Regions from separate parts of the Homo sapiens genome. Here region 1 is linked to region 2. The links come from fine-mapping of genetic effects on gene expression. A gene starts in region 2. The other region holds a variant in brackets. All regions are shown on one strand. Distances are from middle to middle. Region 1 overlaps VAV1 (vav guanine nucleotide exchange factor 1). Region 2 holds the start of VAV1 (vav guanine nucleotide exchange factor 1).

Region 1 (2,500 bases), 55 kb after region 2:
CATGGGAGATGCTATTGTTATGCCCATTTCACAGATGGAGAAACTGGGACTCAGGTTTCTTCTCCAGCGGGGAAGAGCAAGGCCAGGGCTGACGCCAGCCTCTGCCCGACCTTGATGCCAGTCACCTTTACCTGGTGGCCTGTCTTCTCCCTGTAGGTTCCTCGTCTATGGCCGCTACTGCAGCCAGGTGGAGTCAGCCAGCAAACACCTGGACCGTGTGGCCGCAGCCCGGGAGGACGTGCAGATGAAGCTGGAGGTGGGCGCCGGGCCACTTCTCGGGGGCCTCTCCCGCTCCTCCCCAGGCCCTGGGGGCAGCAGGGAGGACACTGAGTTGCAGATGGTCCACTTTCTGCTGCAGCCCAGCCAGAGATCCACCAAAGGACTAGGGAGGGAGGTACTAGCCAGCCAAGCAGAGGAAATGGAGAAGAACAGAAATGGGCTGGCCCTGGGTCTGGGCTGACCCCTGATATCAGGGTGAAGTCCTGACCCTGAACTGAGCTCTGATCTCACACTCAACCCCAGCCCTGGGCTGAGCCCTAGCACTGATTGTACCCCAAGTCGGGCTGAGCTCCCACTTCTCACTGAACCCCAATTCCAACCAACCCCTGATCCCAGGCTGAACTTGATCTTGAACTGAACTTCAACCTGGATCTGTCTGGTGGAAACACAGACAGGGCAGGGGTGGTGAGGACGGGGGCTCTCCAGATCTGTCCCCCTCCCCATCTCCAGCCCCCCTCAGCAGGCAGAATACTGGACCTCTATCCCAGGCAGCATTTGCCACATTCCAGTGGGTTTGTTTGTTTGTTTGTTTTGTTTTGTTTTGTTTTTTTGAGACAGGGTCTCATTCTGTCCCCCAAGCTGGAGTGTAGTGGCATGATCATAGCTCACCACAGCCTCGACCTCCTGGACTCAAGCAATCCTCCCAACTCCTACCTTGGCCTCCTGAGTAGCTGGGACTACAGATGCATGCCACCATTCCTGGCTAATTTTTGTGTTTTTTGCAGAGATGGGGTTTCACCATGTTATCCAGGGTGGTCTCAAACTCCTGGGCTCAAGCGACTCACCCACTCAGCCTCTCAAAGAGCTAGGATTACAGGCCTGAGCAATCGTGCCCAGCCTCTTCCCATTGCTTTTTTGTTTGTTTGTTTGTCTTTGTTTTTTGAGATGGAGTCTCCCTCTGTCACCCAGGTTGGAGTGAAGTGGTGTGATCTCAGCTCAATGCCATCTCTGCCTCCCGGGTTCAAGCAATTCTCCTGCCTCAGTCTCCTGAGTAGCTGGGATTGCAGGAGTCTGCCACCACGCCAGCT[A/ATT]TTTTTTTTTTTTTCATAGCAGAGACGGGGTTTCCCCGTGTTGGCCAGGCTGGTCTTGAACTCCTGACCTCAAGTGATCCTCCCGCCTCGGCCTCCCAAAGTTCCTTCCAGTGGTTCTCAAGCTGCCCCCACCTCATGGAGTCCTTTTCCTGTTTCCTTGGGGGCAGATATGATGCTTTGGCCTCTAGAAAAATTCCCACAGCTCTGGGGTGGAGAGCTGCTCACGTATTTATTCAAATCTATCTGCACCCACCCTGCAACTGGCTGTTTCTGGGACCTGCCTCAGTTTCCCCATTGTTCTCTGATTCCCCAGGAATGTTCTCAGAGAGCCAACAACGGGAGGTTCACCCTGCGGGACCTGCTGATGGTGCCTATGCAGCGAGTTCTCAAATATCACCTCCTTCTCCAGGTGCCAGGCACATCTCTAGGCGTGGGCTCCACGTACCTACTCTCCTGTGTCTATAAAAGTGGGGACGGGGCTGGCTTCTGGGGGTTGGGTCTCTAGGACGCTCGGGGATGGGTCACTGGGGTCATGTCTCAGCCTCCAGGGTCAGCAGTACGATGGAGGAGCTGGTGAGCTAGCATTGTTTGGAAGGCCCTCCCCGCAGGGAGAAGGGGAGGGGCCCAGGTGACGTCTGACGTCTTGGTTCTCTCAGGAGCTGGTGAAACACACGCAGGAGGCGATGGAGAAGGAGAACCTGCGGCTGGCCCTGGATGCCATGAGGGTGAGTGGGTGTAGGGTGCTGGTGACTCACCTGCTGCAGACACCCTCCTGGTAGGGGCTGATCCTCTAGCCGGGATTAGGTAGGAGCCTGGGTCGGCTGTTGGGGGGCCAGGTTCACCCCTGCCCCCTCCCCAGGACCTGGCTCAGTGCGTGAACGAGGTCAAGCGAGACAACGAGACACTGCGACAGATCACCAATTTCCAGCTGTCCATTGAGAACCTGGTGAGGCGGTGGAGCCGGGTGGGCCAGGGGTGTGGCCACGTGGGGAGAGTGTGTGTCTGGCTCCTTTCTTGGGAGACCCTTGCTAGACCCCCTGCCTACTGCATAGGACCAGTCTCTGGCTCACTATGGCCGGCCCAAGATCGACGGGGAACTCAAGATCACCTCGGTGGAACGGCGCTCCAAGATGGACAGGTGGGTGGAGTCAACATGGATCTGGGATGGAGCCTGGGCAAAGGGGTGGGACCAG
Region 2 (2,918 bases):
GTTCGAGACCAGCCTGACCAACATGGAGAAACCCTGTCTCTACTAAAAATACAAAATTAGCTGGGCGTGGTGATGCATGCCCGTAATCTCAGCTACTTGGGAAGCTGAGACAGGAGAATCGCTTGAACCCAGGAGGCAGAGGTTGTGGTGAGCTGATCACACCACTGCACTCTAGCCTGGGCAACGAGAGTGAAACTCCGTCTCAAAAGAAAAAAAAAGAAGAAAGAAGCCTGGCGCGGTGGCTCACGCCTGTAATCCCAGCACTTTGGGAGGCTGAGGCGGGCGGATCATGAGATCGGGAGATCGAGACCACGATGAAACCCTGTCTCTACTAAAAATACAAAAAATTAGCCAGACGCGGTGGCGGACGCCTGTAGTCCCAGCTACTCAGGAGGCTGAGGCAGGAGAATGGCGTGAACCCGGGAAGCGGAGCTTGCAGTGAACTGAGATTGCGCCACCGCACTCCAGCCTGGGTGACAGAGTGAGACTCCGTCTCAAAAAAAAAAAAAGAAGAAAGAAACAAAGAGAGAAAGAAAGGAAAGAAAGAAAGGAAGGAAGGAAGGAAGGAAGGAAGGAAGGAAGAAAGGAAGGGAGGGAAAGAGGGAGAGAAAGGAAGGAAGGAAAAAAATAACTTAAAAAATCAGATTTGTTGGACAAAGATCAGGGCTTAACCTAGGGAGGTGGGTAGAGCTAATGGAATGCGGAAAAGGCTGTGATTTGAAATGAGGGGATTTAGGAAGACCTCATGAGAAGGTAGCATTTGAGCAAAGACATGTAGGGGTGAGGGAGCTAGCCATGAAGTTGCTTAAGGTGGAGGACACAGCCCGTGCAAAGGCCCTGGGGCAGGGCCGTATGTTCCTGGCATGTTGGAGGAAGAGCGAAGAGGCCCGTGTGGCTGGAGCACAGTGAAGAGGGGGAGAGAGGGAGTGGGGAGGGCAGGGAGGGAACTGGGCAATTCAAGCAGGGTTTTGTGGGCCTTGGGGAGGACTTGGGCTTGTCCCTGGAGGAAAGTGGGAGCCATAGAGAGTTGTGGGCAGAAGAAGGGTGTGCCCTGACTCAGATGCTCACAGGCAACCTCTGGTGGTGGCTGCAGGGAGGACAGACTGTGGGGTACGGGGGCTGGAGTCAGAAGACCAGCTGAGTGATGACGGGGCTGGACCAGACAGAGGAGGGGGTGAGAAGTGGGTGAATTCTGGGTATATTTCAGAGTGTCACTGCCGCCGTCTGCATATGGAGGAAGCTCACCCATCTCATAGTCTAGCTGGCCTGACTCCCCCAGCCCCCCAACTCCCCATGCCCAGGCCTGTGTCGAGTGGGCGGAAGAAAGAGATGTCAGATTCTGCATGGAAGGCGTGGGGTGGGGCTGGGCTGCAGGTGCTCCCCCAGCTCCCCCCCGCCCCATGGCTCCTCCTCCTCCACCCCCTCTCAGGGCGACAGTTACAGGCAAAGAAGAGGAAGTGGTAGCACTAGCTGTCGCTCCACAGGCGAGCAGGGCAGGCGTGCGGGCGGGTGGGTGGTGGAGGCTGCGAGGGTGCACGGCCGGCCCTGGGCAGGCGGTAGCCATGGAGCTGTGGCGCCAATGCACCCACTGGCTCATCCAGTGCCGGGTGCTGCCGCCCAGCCACCGCGTGACCTGGGATGGGGCTCAGGTGTGTGAACTGGCCCAGGCCCTCCGGGATGGTGTCCTTCTGTGTCAGCTGCTTAACAACCTGCTACCCCATGCCATCAACCTGCGTGAGGTCAACCTGCGCCCCCAGATGTCCCAGGTGAGCCCTCCGCGGGCAGGTGTGCTGAGGGTTGGAGACGGGGGTCCTCCCCGGGGCTGACAGTCGAGGGGCTGACGTGCTGCTCCACCTCTGGGCCTGCAAAGGAGAGGGAATATGCTTACAGGTCCAGGGCTGGCCCAGGGGGTGGTCACAATCTGAGATTCTGGGGTGGCCTCCCCAAGCTTAACAGGCTCCCTGTGTGGGTTCACGGGCCCTGAGTTGGCCCGCATCTGGGCTGAGAACTGGCAAACTAGGGGTTAACTCTCTCAAGCCCCAGGCGCCTCTACTGTGGTTCATGCCCCCAGATGGGACCAACCAGAGGTCTCGGGGGAGCTCCCCAGAACCCCCAGGGTGGCCATTGGGTTACCTGAGGCTTTGGACTCCTTTGACCCCCAGAGTCTGGATGTGGGGGAGGAGCCTCCGCCAACATCTTCCCCCACATGTGTCTCCTCCTCCCGGGCCCTGGGCCCCTTCCTTCCCCTTACATCTTCCTTCCCCTTGGCTTCCTGCCTGGGCCTGGGGCAGCATGGGGCAGGTGGGGGGCTGCAGCCCCAGGGATCTGAGCTTCCTCCCTGCATCCATCTCAGAGGAGATAGTAAGGCAGGGCCCAGTCCTGGGCTCAGAGAGTGGGTCCTGAGGTCTTGGTGCTTGGAAGAGCTGCATTTTCTCGGCAGGGATTTCTGCAGGGGCCCAGGCTGGAGGGGTGGTGGTGGATTTGACTGTGGCTGTATGAGACTGGCTCAGGAAATATATTCAAATCCCTATTTGAATGTGGTTGGGTGGGCGTGTGATGTGGCTGCATTATGTTGCTGTAGCATCATGTCTGGTTCCCCAGGGCTGCTGGGTGGGAACGGGGGACGGGGCGGGGCTGGTGGAGTCCCATCTCCTCTGGGATGAAAGGAGATACAGCCCTATCCTGGGGCCTGGGGGACACAGTCCTGCCCTGAGGTCTGAGGGGACAGCTCCCATCTGGTCCTCAGGCTGGCCCTGCAGATGAAGAGCTGGGAGGATAAGTTAATGGAGATGGGCCCATGGGGGTTCCTGGCGGGTGGTTTTCAGGGGCAGGGCCATTGGTGGAAGAGATCCATGCGCCTTTACTCCTTCTGTTTATTTTATTTATTTATTTATTTTTTTGAGACGGAGTCTCACTCT

What was found. PIP is the estimated chance that this variant, and not a neighbour inherited with it, causes the effect. A credible set is the group of variants that fine-mapping cannot tell apart.
Region 1: its variant is the best candidate, but not a certain one, in a credible set for the expression of VAV1 in whole blood (INTERVAL, PIP 0.56).

The regions. Positions count from the first base shown.
Region 1 is chr19:6,826,456-6,828,955 of GRCh38, forward strand. It overlaps VAV1 (vav guanine nucleotide exchange factor 1), which reads left to right. Exons shown (of 27, transcript NM_005428.4): 9 at 157-256; 10 at 1,621-1,716; 11 at 1,964-2,032; 12 at 2,167-2,253; 13 at 2,360-2,445. Among named protein-coding and RNA genes, the nearest start is that of VAV1, 55 kb to the left of the region's middle. The variant A/ATT (reference allele first, on the strand shown) is at 1,308.
Region 2 is chr19:6,771,246-6,774,163 of GRCh38, forward strand. It overlaps VAV1 (vav guanine nucleotide exchange factor 1), which reads left to right and starts at 1,463. Exons shown (of 27, transcript NM_005428.4): 1 at 1,463-1,766. The coding sequence starts at 1,563. RefSeq lists a silencer at 1,282-1,531 and enhancers at 1,693-2,193, 2,302-2,351.